Linked DNA regions of Homo sapiens: region 1 is linked to region 2. Evidence: fine-mapped expression QTL. Tissue or cell type: caudate. Region 2 holds a variant in brackets; the other region holds the start of a gene. All regions are shown on one strand. Distances are between the middles of the regions.

Region 1 (8,331 bases), 25 kb after region 2:
ACACAGCAGTCAGCCATAACATTTATTTCGAATCTCATTTCCTAAACATATGGTTAATATAACAATATTGCGGTTCTTTTCTTTTTCCTTTTTTTTTTTTTTTTTTTTTTTTTGAGAAGGAGTATCCCTCTGTCACCTAGGCTGGAGTGCAGTGGTGTGTTCTCGGCTCACTGCAACCTCCACCTCCTGGGTTCAAGCGGTTCTCCTGCCTCAGCCTCCTGAGTAACTGGGATTACAGGCACACGCTGCCACGCCCAGCTAATTTTTGTATTTTTTGTAGAGACAGGGTTTCACCATGTTGGCCAGGATGGGCTTGATCTCCTGACCTCGTGATCCACCCGCCTTGGCCTTCCAAAGTGCTGGGATTACAGGCATGAGCCACTGCATCTGGCCAACAATGTCATGGTTCTGTCTCAGACGGCATACTAGTACCCATATTTGTGCTAGGATTTGCCTTCAGTGGAATTGGAAAAAACCACATCCTTTTTGCAAACGCCATCAATGAGTCAGCCTGCTGAAGGAGCACCTCAAAGAGCATATCCACCTGCCCTGGGCCACTGAGGACCCCTAAGGAGCACGGCAGTCCTTCTCCAGACCGACACAGCACCCACACCCAGGGCCAGACCACGTGCAGCACAGCCCACATCCCCCAACCAGCAGATGTCCCCAAGGGAGCTGGGCCTGGTACCTTCTGGGTCCTCCTCCCCCCGCTCCTCCCCATCCTTCAGGCTCTGTTCACTGAGGTCGGCCACGATGCCACTGCTGTGTTTCTTCCCTTCTTCATCGCCGGATTCTTCAGACTCGACCCGCCTGTCAACTGAACCCACACATGTCAATGAGAATTCACATCCACTTTATGGGACTTTGAGGAACATATAATAAACACCCGGTTGTAAGTCAAAAGGATTTCATTTAAACATGTTTGTTGAATCCAGTTCAACGAACATCTGAGTGTCTCCCATGTCCCAGCACCATTTGAGGCATATGGCCGCGGGGAGAATGGGGAGCAGAGTGTGGAGCCCACATGGATACTTAGGTGAGGAACACACTACTTCTGCCCTCAAGGAGCTTGTGAAGAATTGCCCAGTGTTCTGAAAGCCTTGGATCACCTGTGATTAAATCCACTAATGGAACCCGGTAGTGAAGCACCTCCTGAGTGCCTTTCACTTTTGGGCTGGGGGATCACCACTGTGACCCTTCTGCCACATACCTCCATCCATGCTCCACTATTTATCTGGCTAAGAAAACCAGCCAAGTTCACAGGCCCACGTTCTGAAAGAAATCAAGACTAACTCAAATCAGACTGTGGGCAGGGAGGATCACTAAGGAAAAGGAGAATACAGCCAATAGTGCTGACCGCCCACAGAAAGCTCATTGGTGTGAAATGAGCTTTCACACTGGACACTGGACAGAGTGTTAGCAACTTAAGGCTTTTAAAGGTTCATAAATATTTTTTGAATTAAAGAATAAGGCAATTCAATGTGTCAGGTAAAAATTCTTTGGTAAGGTTGTCAAATCATTTTTCTTTTTTATAACTTTACTCATGACCTCTTTTGGAAGTCTGTCTGGAAAACATGAGGCACTAACACATTACTTGGAATTATCAACCATACTGAAAATACTCTTTCCTGACTATGGTTTATCTACAAAGAGATGTGCTCTTTGAGGGAAAAAGTTCAACTTCATCTTTGTACTTCCCGCTTAGCCTAGCAAAGTAAAACCCAAGAAAGGATTGCTGTAGAAAACAAGTCCTTATAAAACCCACCTCCAAAACCTCCAAATCCATCTCTTCTTCCCTACCCCCGCAATGACGGTGGCTCACTTACTTATTAGCTGCAGCCTGGGCTCCTGCCCTGCCTCCTAACTCGTCTCTGTGACTTGTCTTGCCCTGCTTAACCTATTCTCCCCTGCCAGAGAGTCTGATCTAATTCTAAAATCCAAATCTGATCTTTTGAGTCCAAAAGTATTTCTGGAATGCTCTTCCTGAGTTTGCATCTTGCTGCTAGAGATGCAGCTTTGGCAAATCGTTTCCATTTGAAAGCCTCAATCTCCTAGTCTGTGGAAGGGAGCTAGTATAGCACCTATGCCTCAGCAAGTTGCTGTCACGGTTAAATTAGAAAAGGCACAAGAGCAGTTAGCACGTGCATGACATGCAGTAGATATATAACAAATTAGTCACCACCAGGCACAGGTCACTTGGTGGTCCAGGCTCAGGGAGAGAAAGTTCTACTGCATGACAATCTGGCACAAAAACCCCAGTAAGAGGAGGAGTGGTGTGAGGTTAGCAAAGGCTTAGCTAACGAAGGTTGGCCAAAGTGAAGCCTGAGGGCAGCAGAGAGGGTCTGGAACATGGGACAGTGGCTCTGCATGTAAGAAAATGACTTTGGTGTACTGGGGATGATGGGCTGGTGAACAGGGACAATCAATCTAGCCTAGAGATGATGAAGGTCTGAGTTAAGGTACTGGCAATGGGAATGGAGGACGTATCGGAGATTTGGAGATACTTTCAAAAGTAAAAGTCAGAGCTCCTTGACTAACAGGACATGGGTGGGAGTGGGACAGTGAGAAAAGCCGGGCTTTTATATCTGTCATTTACCAAGACATGGAAACAGCTGAAGAGGGAGTGGGAGGATATGAAGAGGCGCTTCTTAAAAAGACTCAAAGGGTATGAAGTCCAAGACCCTTAACACTACCGCCCCCATCCCCACCACATACGATTTGGTCAAACTCTCCTCCACACCTTTTGACAGCAGTTTTCTCCGTCTTGAGTGATTCTTGCTCTTTTCCCTCACCCTATCCCCAACCTCGTTGCCTTCGAGTTATTCTTCAGGCTCCAGCTCAGAGCTCGCCCTGCTTCTGCAGCTGTCACCACTCCCTAACATGTCAGGCCTTCCTGCTGCACCCGCCCTCCTTCCCCAGCTCCACATTCCTCTTCCCTACCCCTTTCACATAAGGCAGTGACTGCTCTTCTGGGAGGTCTGTACCCCTCACCAAACCATGGGACCCAAAAGTACTTAAGCTGATGACACAACTGATTCCCCAGTTGCTAAGTGGGTGTGTGCACGCATTTTTACACACATACTGTACGTGCACGTATATGACTGTACCTACAGATATGCAGAAAATTATAAACACATGTGTACGTATAACATATACATATATGCATGTGGTTTTTTTTTCCAACAAAGTGAATGAGGAGGAAGAAAGTTGAATTCAGACTTTTTGGAACTATGACAGCTTTGAAAACAGGTATCACCTTGTGTAACTCAATCTTCCGGTTCCTTGTTACCCCTTCCCAACAGTCCATTCGATTTCAAGAGAAGACCCTTCTCCACCCTCACCACGTGAACCAAGGAGCAGACTCTGGTAGATCCCAGCGCCTCAGTTTCCTCGTCAGCTGACCGAGGAGGCTCCCCCGCCCGTCAATCTCAGAGGCTCGGGGCGAGGCTCCAACTGGACTGAATGGAGCCACCGCGTCCCATTCAGCCCCACCCCCGGCCTGGCCTCGCGCCGCCGCTCTCCCCCTAGCTCTGGGTCCTTCCCGGCCGCTGCCGCCCCCGGGCCGGGGCTCCCCCGAGGTCCAGCGCCTCCCCCGCTCCCCCGGGTCCGGCTGTCAGCTGTCAGGGGGCCGCGCGGCGGCGGCCAGAGGCAGGACGTGGAGTTTCTCTCAGGCACGGAGCAGTTCCAGCCCGCAGCTCCCCCCGCCCGCTGGGCCCTTGGGCCGCCGCCCGCAGGGGCCGCTCACCCTCCATCATCTCCTGCGACTGTTGCTGCCCCGCGCCGCGTTCCGCCGCCATGTTGGCTGCTCTTCCCCTTTCCGGAATCTGTCGCCTCAGACCCCTCAGCCAATCAGGGCTCCCGCCTCAGAGCCGGCCCTGCCAATGGGATTCCGGCGCGGCGACTTCAGCCGCGCCGCGCCTGCGTGGGCCCAGCGCCTCATGGGAGTTGTAGTTCCGTCATGAGGCCGCGCGCCGCGCCTCCCCCAGAGCAGGTAATTTCAGGCGGCGGAGCCGGAACAGTCTGGAGGCGAGAAGCTGGGAAGGAAAGCAGAGGGAGTCGAAGCGGGACGCACAGAGCCGTAGCTGCAGGCAGACGGAGTGGACGTCTAGGCAGAGTGGAGAGACGCCCTGGGCTTGAGAGTTGACTTATGTCACTGTCTCGACCTCGGAGGCGTGGAGGGGCCGCGGGCCAGGCGGATCTTTCCGTGGCTGCAAGGTGCGGGCCAGTCCTACGTGCATCCCTGACCTCTGCGAGCCTCGCTGGCTGCGTCTGTACAATGGGCCGAACGGCAAGAGCAACAACATTCTCCCGGCGTCCCCGCGCGGATTTTACCCATGCGAAATGCCGCCTTCTCTTGACGCTCGGAGCAGGCGGGCAGGTGCGGGGCACTTGCGCTGGTGGGGCCGCTAGCCAGCTGGCTGGCTCCGGGGCGCCAGCTGGGCTCCCCTTGCAAGTCGTTCCCAGCCCAGTGCGGACGCTGCAGCCTTCGTCTACCCTGCGGAGCCACCCGGCCCATGAACGAGCCGCCCCGCGTCCTCCGCCTTCAGAAAGAGGCCTCCAAGAGGCGAGCTCTGCGCTACTCACCCATTTTGATCGCGAGTCGGGAGGAAACCGCATCTGCCCGGCCCGGGGGCGGAGGCGCCCATTATTCCTTTGGCTCCTCCGAAGCGCCGTAGGGGTGTTTGGTGCGTCCCTAGCAACCCTTAGCGCGGGCTTCTAGACTCTGGCTAGCTTAGTCCCGCCCATACGCGCAAGTGGCTGGTCCGTGGAGCTTGTCAATCGGTGCTAGTCGCTGTGCGATTGGTCGGTGGGATAAAAGCGCGGAAGGGCTCCTTTCCGTGGTGTGTAGCCGGCTTGGCGTGACCCTCGCCTGATCCAGGTGAGATACCTGCGCTCGGGAGAGCGGGCCGGGCTCCGCCATCTCCCCAGGGCGGCTGTGGGGCCTGCGCGGCTCCGCGCCCCTGGCCCAGGAGGATCCGCCGCCCGACTCTTAGACCAGCCCGACCCCGGGTCTCCCGCCCCTGCGCCCGTCGCCCTTCGCGCACCGCCGAGCCCGCGTCCTCTCCGTGCCCAAATCGCGGCGGGGTTGCGGCCGTTGGCCCTGGGCCCCGCGCCCCCAGCGTCTTCGGGGTGCCCTTCAGTGTAGCCTGCCCGGTGGGCGCCGAGGCCCCGCGCCTCGGGTCGCCTCGGGACCCTGCGCTCTCTTCACCGCAGCCGGCCCTGCGGGGCGAGCTCCAGGAGAACCAGCCCGGATCCCGCCAGCCTCCTGCACTGGGCGTGTGGGTCCCTGCGGGCTCAGCCGGCGCCGCGGGGTCGGGGGCGCGCGCCGCCGGCGCTCGTGGTTACAGCAAAGACCTGGACTTGAGCCTTAATTTTTTCACTAATTTTTCTTTCCCAGAGTACGGCAGGGGCCTGCGCTGCCGTCTTGAGGCCTTTCTCGTCCTTACCTTCCGCATCTCAGTACCATTCGATGTCCATTTTTCTCTTAGGGGTTCCCTCTCTTCATCTTTCTGCTGCTACCTTAATTTAAGACTTTATAATTTCTTGCCTGGATTACTGTAGCCTTTCTCCTGCTTTCCAGCCTTGCACCGACATGGTCCCTGGAGTAATCTTTGTAAAATGCATATCTGGCCATGTTACTCCTAAGCATTGAATCCTTAAAAGTTCATTTTGGGGATAAAATTAAGACTTTGGGCAGGCATAGGAGGCTCTGGGCTCATGCTTGGCCCTTCCAGGCCCACGTCCACCTACTCTTCTGGGTACTGAACTCCTCTCTGGGAGGCTTTGCCTCTGAAAGACTTCTTCACTCTGCTTGGTAGGGCCCGGCTCTGCAGGTGCCTCCTCCAGGACTGACATCCTTGCTGTGTTCTACTGCACTGTTCACCTTGTTGGCCTCATCCTGAAACTGGTTCTCCTTTTTGTTGTACAGCTGTGCTGACAGCAATGGGAGCTGTTTGCTTCTTAGCTTATGTTCTGGTGGGAGGGGGACAGTTGCTTCTAGAAGTTCGCCGAGATGCTCCCTGCAAAGTTGTCCTTGCTTCTGTTTGGTCTGAGGTGGGGTCACTTGTGTCTTCTGGAATCAAAACTAGCAATGGGAATATGGTTACTCGGTGGCACCATTAGGTGCTGTCTGCTGGGTTTGGGTTCCCGTGTCTGCAGCTCACAGTGGATACAAAGGACAATTTTAAAAATTTGGGCCTGGACGTGCAGGTATTTCTGGTTAACGTCTGAGTCAAAATTTAGTGATCTAAGGTCATGTGAAGCCAGACTCTGTTCTTTCTTGAGGCCAGGCTGTGGCTGTGGAGTGCACGGGAGGCTCCAGGGGCCTATGCTGTTCAGTGACAAACTGGCCCACGTGGACTTCAGATGCCCAGGAGGCACAGCGGGAAAAAGGATGCATCTTTCCTGCTGTCCTCCCCGCTCCCGCAGAGGGTCCCATCAGTTTCCCTCCTGGATAGGCTTGTAACTCTCAGTAACCTAATTAAACTTCCACAACTTTAGTTGGTATTTATTTACTTTCTCCCATGAAGGACAAAAAATTGCATGCCCTTACCCTCCCTTTGCTTTTTTTCCCCCTTTCCATTTCATGTTAGTTACTTTTACAAAGAAACTTCTGTAACATTTACAATATATTCTGAATAGTTATATTACTTTTTTATTATTTTATTTTTTGAGACAGGGTCTTGCTCTGTGGCCCAGGCTGGAGTGCAGTGGTGCTGTGTCCTCTCACTGCAGCCTCCGCCTCCTGGGCTGAAGCGATTCTCCCACCTCAACCTCCCAAGCAGCTGGGACTACCAGCATGTGCCACCACACCTTGCTAATTTTTAATTTTTTTTTTGTAGAGATGGGGTCTCCCTATGTTGCCCAGGCTGATCTCGAACTCCTGGGCTCAAGTAATCTGCCTGGCCTCCCAAAGTACTGGGTATATGACTTTTTAAAATAGTTTTGTAACATTGACATTGCAGTCTGAAGAGTTATATTTTTTAGGAATTAAAGTTTTCTAACAATGTATTCTGAAGAGTTATATTACTTTTTTAAGAAAGTAAGGTTTTACAACATTTACAATGTATTCTGAAGCTATAATTAAGTGTCCTGAGCTTTGTCTATAGGTTGGTTCTAAAAGTAGAAAAAACTGCCTCACACTATAATCATGTCATTGTTATTTATTATGGCAATAATTAGTGCATTTGGATGCTTAGAGAAGGAGATGTAAACCTGTAACTAAAGGTCCCATTCATTGTTGCTGCTTGTAGGAAAGCTGCACACTCGAACCCCAAACCCTATATGTAATAGCTTCCTACACATCTGCAGGTTTGCAGAGCCTTTGCCTTCCAGGGTCCTAGGCTGGGTTTGTGTGTGAATGTCTCTGAATTTTTTGGCCGTATCAGTTTATTCATACAAAAGAATAAAGGCAGTGTTAGTCATGAATTGTACCAGCAGAGTGGATGCATTTGAACCCATCACCCTAGGAAATCAGGGGACCTGTGCCCTTGTGCCTCTTCCCCACTCTTGCACCTGCCTGACCCAGAGGGAACCACCTGCCTGAAATTTAGGTTTACCAGTCTCTTATTTAAGAAGTAGTTTAATTACATAGGTGTGTTTCCCTGAACTACTTATTTAGATTATTTCATGACAAAGGAATCCTCCTGCTGATTGTCTTCCGTAACTTGATTTTTTCCACTCGTATATGGCTAAGATTCACCCTTGTGTGTAGTTTATTTGTTTTCACTGCTGTAATTAGTGGTATGAATATACCAGAATTTAAAATCTATCTTCTTGTTAAAGAGTGTTTGGGTTTCATTTCCTTTTTTCCTCCCTCTCTCCCGCACTCCCTCCCTTTCTTCCCTCCCTTTTTTCTGCCTGTCTCTTTGCCATTGAGAACCATATTGTCCCGAACATTCTGGTGTCTTCTTATCTGTTTGCAAAAATTTCTCTGAAATATAAATCTAAGTGAAAAGTGCTGTATCCATATAGACAAATGTTTCACTTGAATTGTTTTCTAAAGAGATTATATTAATGTATTAAGAGTTCCTGTTGATCCAAATCCTTTTTGACATTGGGTATTACTAGATTCTTCATTTCTGCTGACTTAGTAGGTATAACATCATCATGATTAGGATTTCCTCTCCTGTAAAACGCTTGTTCCTATTTCTTGACATTTTTTATTGGGCCATGTGTCTTTTAAAAATGTTTAAATTTTAAATAGTTGATCTTTTAAAGCTATTCTGGATATTAATTTTCTGTTGGTTATGTATGTGGCAAATATCTTCTCCCAAATTGTGGCTTGTTCTTTCGTTTTCTTTATGGTATTCTTTGTGAAGCTGTGTTCTC
Region 2 (8,331 bases):
TCAGCAGCTGATCCCTTGCCCGAACCAACGGCTGGGATTCTGCTAGAGAACATCTTCTTGGCTGACGTTTTCCTGGCAGACTCTTTTGGTTTTTGGAACCCAAACTTGCATTTTGTATTTATGGGGTTTTCTATCTGTGTATTTTGCATATACATACATAGGATACCTGTATTTCCCTTCACAATTTTTTTGGCTGATATTATAGAAAATTCACATTAATTACCCCAAACTCAGTAATGTTTTAAGCAAAAGATGGGTAGAATTCTTAAGATACATTTCATAAACAACTGGTAGAATGTAAAAATCACTTATTTTCTGAAAATCTCCATGACAGTTTAACAAAGGAGATGCGTGACACAGGCACGGCCCATCAAGAGCCGTCCGTGGGGATGGTGAGGCTGCCAGACACAGGCACGGCCACATCGAGAGCTGTCCGTGGGGATGGTGAGCTACTCGGGAGGCTGAGGCAAGAGAATCCCTTGAACCCGGGAGGCGGAGGTTACAGTGAGCGGAGATTGCGCCACTGCACTCCAGCCTGGGGGACAGAGCCAGACTCCGTCTAAAAAAAAAAAAAAAAAATTAGCGGAGCGTGGTGGCGGGCACCTGTAGTCCTAGCTACTCGGGAGGTTGAGGCAGGAGAATGGTGTGAACCCAGGAGGTGGAGCTTGCAGTGAGCCGAGATCACGCCACTGCACTCCAGCCTGGGTGACAGAGCCAGACTCTGTCTCAAAAAAAAAAAAAAAAGCTGAAGACCAGTGACAAAGTAAAGTATCTGCAACACAGATGACATACTAAGGTTTAGTATCATTCATTGATAGAATCTCTATAAGTTAATAATAAAAGGGAAAATGCACTGGACTAAAGCTAGCAGAAAGTATCAAGAGGGAACAAAAGGACAAAGTGGTTGAAAACAGAGGCGCCAGGGTTAGACTCATCTGTAATTAAAGGAATGCAACTGAAACCTAATGAAATGGCCATCACTAGACTGAAGGGGAGCAGAAAGTGGGCCCAGGCCAGGCACACATGCTGGGAGGGAGGCACACAGCCTCTCCTCGAGCAGCCCCTACCTGTGCCCCCCGCTCCTTGCAGCTCACACCCAGACAGCCCTGGGTCAGGGGTGCCAAGCTGGCACAGGCTGCTTGTGCAGGGCGCTGCCTACAGGAAAGCATTCCATCAAGAGGGCTGAGGAAGCACAGCTGTGGCATGGAGCAGGCCTGCAATGTAATTTAAATGGCATCACTTGGCTTAAACGAGCGGGCAGCATCTGCCAACAGAGCATCTGGGAGGGTCCTGGGGAAGCCCCTGTGCCAGCAGGGCAGTGGGCAGATGGGCTCCATGCCGGCATCAGACACCATGAGGGTGGAAACTTTCCTGCCAAATGTTTCTCCTCCCCTGGCTACTGCCTTTGGTCACTGTGATGCTACCTTTCCCCTGGATTACTGGGAAGAGGGTGGGGGCCTGAGCAGGGCAGTGCTGGTCTCAGCCCACCCTCCAGGCCCTGGATGTCAGCTTGAAACAAGTCGCGTATGGCAGGGGCGGGATGCATCATATTGGTGAACTGTGTATTGCTATCCTCCACCTATTTTTCTATTGAATCGCTTTCTTTCACTTTAAAGAACTTTTTGTATGTCATAGAAAATAACCTTAACCTTAACCTCTCAGGCGACCAATGGACTCTTTCATCATGCAAAATACATACGCTTTATAAAATTAGATATACCTATTCTTTCTTTTTTCACTGATTTTTAAATCTTGGTTAGGAAGCTCTCTATGATTTTTTTTTTTTTAAGGTGGAGTCTAGCTTTGTCGCCAGGCTAGAGTGCAGTGGCACAATCTTGGCTCACTGCAACCTCTGCCTCCCAGGTTCAAGCGATTCTCCTGCCTCAGCCTCCCGAGTAGTGGTGACTACAGGCGCGTGCCACCACATCCAGCTAAATTTTTGTATTTTAGTAGAGACAGGGTTTCACCATGTTGGCTAGGATGGTCTCGATCTCCTGACCTGATCGTGCAGTGGCACGATCTTGGCTCACTGCAACCTCCGCCTCCTGGGTTCAAGCAATTCTCCTGTCTCAGCCTCTCCAGTAGCTGAGACTATAGGTGCATGCCGCCACGCCTGGCTCATTTTTGTATTTTTAGTAGAGATGGGGTTTCACCATATTGGTTAGACTAGTCTCAAACTCCTGACCTTAGGTGACCCACCCGTCTCAGCCTCCCAAAGTGCTGGGATGACAGGTGTGAGCCACCGTGCCCAGCTGCATGTGGTATTTTTAAGGCTCTAAATGCCCTACAGAAAACTTGTATGAAACACAGCTATCTCCGTAGTCACGAGAGTGCCTGCTGCCATCACAGGCTGGTTGCAGCTGCATTCTATGAGTCTTCACCAACCTGACAGATAACACTGTATCTCACTGTTTTAGTAGATTTTAAAAGTTAATGAGATATGGCCAGGCACAGTGGCTCACGCCTGTAATCCCAACACTTTGGGAAGCCGAGGCAGGCAGATCACTGGAGGCCAGGAGTTCAAGACCAGCCTGGCCAACATGGCAAAACCCCGTCTCTACTAAAAATACAAAAATTAGCCAGGCATGGTGGTGGCAGCCACCTGTAATCCCAACTACTTGGGAGGCTGAGGCAGGAGAATCACTTGAACCCGGGAGGTGGAGGTTGCAGTGAGCCGAGATCGTGCCACTACACTCTAGCCTGGACGACAGGAGCAAAGCTCCATCTCAAAAAAAAAAAAAAGAAAGAAAAAAAAATTAATGAGATAGGAAATGCTTTATGTATTTACAAGCAACTGTTACTTCTTGCTCTGTGAACACCCTAGTTTTCAAGTGGTACCTGGGTGTGAGCTGTTTTTAATGTAAGGATGTTAGCCCTGCATCTGACACATGTGGATAACATATTTTCCAATGTTATCTGTAGCTGGCCTCCACCCAGTTGGCCAGCCTTTTCTATGTTCCTTCTGCTCATTCAAATATGTTTCAGGCACTGACTGGGCATGGTGGCTCACACCTGTAATCCCAGCACTTTGGGAGGCCCAGGCAGGAGGATTGCTTGAGTTCAGGAGTTTGAGACCAGCCTGGACACCACAGTGAGACCTTGTCTCTACAAAAGATTTTAAAATGGTCCAGACATAGTGGCTCACTCCTGTAATCCCAGCACTTTGGGAAGCCGAGGTGGGCGGATTACCTGAGGTCAGGAGTTTGAGACCATCCTGGCCAACATGGTGAAACCCCGTCTCTGCTAAAAATGCAAAAATTAGCCAGGCGTGGTGGCATTCACCTGTAATCCCAGCTACTGAGAGGCTGAGGCAGGAGAATCGTTTGAACCTGGAAAGCGGAGGCTGCAGTGAGATTGTGCCATTGCACTCCAGCCTGGGTGACAAGAGCAAAACTCCATCTCAAAAAAACAAAAAACGAAACAAAACAAAAAACCCACAAATGTAGCCAGGTCATTGGTGCACACCTGCAGTCCCAGCTACTTGGGAGGCTGAGGTGGGAGGATCACTTGAACTCAGGAGGCCAAGGCTTCAGTGAGCCATGATCATGCTACTGCACTCTAGCCTGGGTGACAGAACAAGACTCTGTCTCAAAAGAAAAAAGTGTATCAGGCACTATTCCAGATGCTGGTGAGATAAGAGTGAACAAAACAATATCCATACTGCGGAATATTATTTGGCCCTAAAAAGAAAGGCAATTCTGACACATGCTTACAGAATGGGTGAATCTTCAGGTCAATATGCTGAGTGAAGTAAGCCAGTCACAAAAATAAATACTGCATGATTCCAGTGATATGAGGTCTGTAGTTAAATTCATAGAGACAGAAAGTAGAAGGGTCATTGTCAAGGTCTGGGAAGGGGAAAATAGGGAGTTATTGTTTAATGGGTACAGAGTTCCAGTTTTATAAGTTGAAAAGAGTCCTGGAGATGGACGGTGGTGATGGCTGTGCACCATTACGAATGTGCTGAATACCACTCACTGTACACTTCCACATGGTTAAGATGGTGAGTTTTATTTTATGCATGTTTTACCACAATAAAGAAATTGGGAGGGAAAACAAAGTAAACCAAACACTAATTTCCCTGCCCTTATGAGGTTTGTATTATACAGTGGGGGAGACAGACACAAAAGTAAGATAAATAAGTAGGACTTCTGTTTCAAGCCATGACAGAATAGCTGGTGCTGAGCTCCTGCCTTTGTCACAAGCTACTAGAAAATAGGATAGAATAGGCCGGGCGCGGTGGCTCACACCTGTAATCCCAGCACCTGGGGAGGCCAAGGCGGGCGGATCATGAGGTCAGGAGATGGAGACTGTCCTGGCTAACACAGTGAAACCCTGTCTCTACTAAAATACAAAAAAAATTAGCCAGGCGTGGTGGCGGGCACCGGTAGTCCCAGCTACTCAGGAGACTGAGGCAGGAGAATGGTGTGAACCCAGGAGGCGGAGCTTGCAGTGAGCTGAGATCGCGCCACTGCACTCCAGCCTGGGCGACAGAGCAAGACTCTATCTCAAAAAAAAAAAAAAGAGGATAAAATATATGAAATAATTGTTTTTATACATCAGACAACAGGCAACACAGATAGTGATTCTTGAGAGACAGGAAACAAATGAGGTGGGTGGTGTGATCATCCCGGCCTTCTGCCTGGAGGAACTTTCAGGACCACAAGGAGGCGGAACCCAAGCAGAGCCTGGTGGCCACACAGAGTTGAGATGGTGATTGTAGTTTGGGGAGGCAAAGGGAGCTGGAATGTATAGATAGGAGTGAGCTATGTAGGGAAAAAGCCTCCAGAAATCCACATGGTATCCTGTGGAATCCTGGACTGAAGATGAAGCTGTGCTAGGCAGAGTGAAAAGCTAAAGGCTGGT[C/T]GAAGAACTACTAAGCAGCCCCAAGATGCAGAATGCCCAGAGCTCACCCATAGCAGGTCCATGTTTGTGTTCCCGTCAACCACAGTGGAGAGAACTTAAATACACAGGATATTCACCAGAGATCCTAGGAGGGCCACAGCTTCAAAACAGTGCTAGATTAATCTTACGGAGTAGACTATTTAGATGTACTCTAATAAAGCTTAAAAACAAGCCTCAAAAGGATCAAGCTGTAACTTAATTGCCTGTCAGATAAAGTTCAGTATGTTTTGAAGGAAAACAACATAAATTCCAGACATTCAACAATTGAACACCATAAAGCCCAGGATCTAATAAAAAATTACAAGACGTGAAGAAGGAAGGACTTAAAGGAAAACATGAATCTAATGAAGAGAGAAAAATAATCTACCAAAAAAAAAAAAATAAAGCCAAATGTTCTTTTAGAGTTGAGAAAAATACAGTATCTGAAATAAAAAATTCATGACATGGGCTTAACAGCAGATAGGCTACTACAGATGATAAGATCATGATCTTGAAGATTTAACAACAGAAATTATACAAACAAGCACAGCAAGATGAAAGCCCAAGGGGTGGAGCAGGGTGGAGGCAATGGCCTCAGGGGCCTCGCTAGTGCCAGGGGAACATGCATAACTGGGTTTTCAGAGAGAAACCGGGGTGAGGAGCAAGGGCAGAAGCAGTTTTAGAGAAAATAGTCTCCAGAAGCTTTCCACATTTGATGAAGACCATAGATTCACAGACCCAGTTAACCCTGACACATCACAGAAAATAAACTACACCATGGCACGCTATATTCAAGTTGCAAAAAACAAAACAAAATAAGAAACAATGATTAAAAAGAACATTAAAAAGCAGCCAGAGGAAAAAAGATAAAAATGACTGCTGGCTTCTTATTAGAAATAATGCAAACCAGGGCCGTGTGTGGTGGCTCACACCTGTACTCCCAGCCCTTTGGGAGGCTGAGGCAGGAGGACTGTCTGAGCTCAGGAGTTCGAGACCAGTCTGGGCAACATGGCAAGATCCCGTCCTTTTTTTTTTTTTTTTTTTTTTTTGAGAAAGTCTTGCTCTGTTGCCCAAGTTGGACTACAGTGGCATGATCTTGGCTCACTGCAACCTCTGCCTCCTGGATTCAAGCGATTCTCCTGTCTCAGCCTCCCCAGTAGCTGGGACTACAGGCACGTGCCACCACGCCCAGCTAATTTTTGAATTTTTAGTTGAGACGGGGTTTCGCCATGTTGGTCAGGTTGGTCTCAAACTCCTGACCTGAAGTGATCCACCTTGGGATTACAGGTGTGAGCCACCGTGTCTGGCCCCATCTCTATTTATTTTTAAAAAATATTTTTAAAATAATAAAAATTTTATAAAGGAGAAATAATGCAAACCAGAGGATGAAAGAACAAAGTATTTAATGTACTTAAAAAGGAAAAAAAAATCTCTCAAGCTAGAATTGTGTATCCATAATATTAAATTCCAAAAATGCAGGCAAATTAAATAGATTTTTCAAACAAATCAAAGTGAAGGATTGGTTTACTGCAGAATGCACGACAAAACAATAGAATTCTTCAGGTGGAAGGGAAATACCAAGTGGAAACTCAGATCCACACGAAAGAATAAACAATGCCAGAAAAGGTAAAATAAGTGAGTTTTCTTGTTTTTAAATTTCTTTTTTTTTTTTTTTGAGACGGAGTTTCACTTTTTTGCCCAGGCTGGAGTGCAGTGGCACGATCTTGGCCCACTGCAATCTCCACTTGCCAGGTTCAAGTGATTGTCGTGCCTTAGCCTCCTGAGTAGCTTGGACTACAGCATGTGCCACCATGCCCAGCTAAGTTTTGCATTTTTAGTAGAGACAGGGTTTCACCACGTTGGCCAGGCTGGTCTCAAACTCCTGATCTCAGGTGATCCACCTGCCTTGGCCTCCCAAAGTGCTAGGATTACAGGCATGAGCCACTGCGCCTGGCCATTTTTAAATTTCTTTAAAAGATAAGGTATCATGGGGATCGTAAGATATTTAAATGTAAAATATATAGATGGTGAAAATTAAAAATGTATTTTTAAATTCTAATCGCTAAAACAACCCTCCCTCCAAACAATCAACAAGAAAACACTAATACAGAGGTATAGCAAATAAGCCAATAATAGAGTTAAAATAGACTGCAAAAAAAAAAAAGTCACTCCAAAAAGTAGGTAGGAAAGAGTAAACAAAGAATAGATGAGACAAATAAAAAACAAATACTAAGATGATAGACTTAAACTCAACCATTACACAAAATGTAATTAAATGTAATTATATTAAATGTAAGCAGTCTAAAGACACCACTTAAAAGGCAGAGATTCTCAGACTGGAGAAGAAAGCAAGATCTAGTTACATACTTTTTATGAAAAACACATTTTAATTATAAAGGCATGGGTTAAGAGGAAATGGATGGAGAAAGATTCCATGAGAGCGCTAATCATAAGACAGATGAAGGGGCTGTGTTAATAACAGACAAGATACCCTTCCAGGACAAGGATAAAGAGGATAAGCAAGAAAGAAGAACATTTCATATGATAAATGGATCAATTCATCAAGAATTCCTCAATTCTAAATATGTATGCACCTGATAACAGACTTTCAAAATACAAGAAACAAAAACTGATGGAACTGAAAGGAGAAATGGATCCATTGACAATTATAGTTGGAAGGTTTCAACATTCTCCTCTCAGTAATTGGAACAAATAGGCAGAAAAATCAACAAACATAGTATGTGGGTTATCAGAAACTTGTTAAGACTGGTTTTCTATTTCTGCCTTAGAGATGAATGATGTGCCTCTCAAATGTGATATGAGCATGGAACTGAGTTTGAGAATTCCTGGTTTGCAGCTTTCCTTCCTGGAATGCAATTCTTTACCTGTAAAATGGGGTAATATGACCTTATCCACATGGTTGCTGTGATAATTGGATCAGAATGGAGAGAGGTATGGACACCATAAAGCGCTGTGCAAATTCTGGCTATTTTTTACTATCTTTGGTGGCCTAAGGAACAGGATTCTTCTGTGTTACAGGGTCAGGCACTACCTGGCCCCTAGTGATTGATCACCAGCCTGCCTGCCTCCCTGCTAGCTGTGGTACCCAGGTTGGCCCCTGCCTGTGGTCTCAGCACTCTGTGCCCCATGCTCTGTTCCTAGGCAGGGCATGCAGAAGGAATCGTTACGCTTCAGGAACATTGCTTCAGTATCAGCTCGTTTCCCAAACCTGCTCCCTAATTTTTTGCCAGGTGCCCTTTCCCTATCACCTGGTCCTCTGTCTCTGGACTCCTTATTCCTGTTGTTTGGTTTCTTTGTGTTGTTCCCTGGCTTCTTTGCCAACTCCCTATGCACTAATTCAACCAGCCTACCACCAGCCACACCTTCCTTCAAGGGTGGGCTGCACATAGACCCACCTGGACTCATTGAGGCTCCCCCTGGCCTGGT

What was found. PIP is the estimated chance that this variant, and not a neighbour inherited with it, causes the effect.
Region 1: PASK starts here. The variant in region 2 is fine-mapped to the expression of PASK in caudate (GTEx, PIP above 0.99). The same link has a PIP of 0.9 or more in putamen.

Annotation. Positions count from the first base shown.
Region 1 is chr2:241,145,962-241,154,292 of GRCh38, reverse strand. It overlaps PASK (PAS domain containing serine/threonine kinase), which reads left to right and starts at 4,821. Exons shown (of 18, transcript NM_015148.4): 1 at 4,821-4,879. It overlaps PPP1R7 (protein phosphatase 1 regulatory subunit 7), which reads right to left and starts at 3,826. Exons shown (of 10, transcript NM_002712.3): 1 at 3,746-3,826; 2 at 689-817. The coding sequence starts at 3,797. RefSeq lists silencers at 3,405-3,744, 4,875-5,234, 5,295-5,354, 5,405-5,454 and enhancers at 4,035-4,194, 5,708-5,867.
Region 2 is chr2:241,170,872-241,179,202 of GRCh38, reverse strand. The region is part of intron 9 of PPP1R7 (protein phosphatase 1 regulatory subunit 7); the gene reads right to left. The region is part of intron 2 of LOC105373971 (a long non-coding RNA gene); the gene reads left to right. Among named protein-coding and RNA genes, the nearest start is that of ANO7, 14 kb to the left of the region's middle. The variant C/T (reference allele first, on the strand shown) is at 4,867.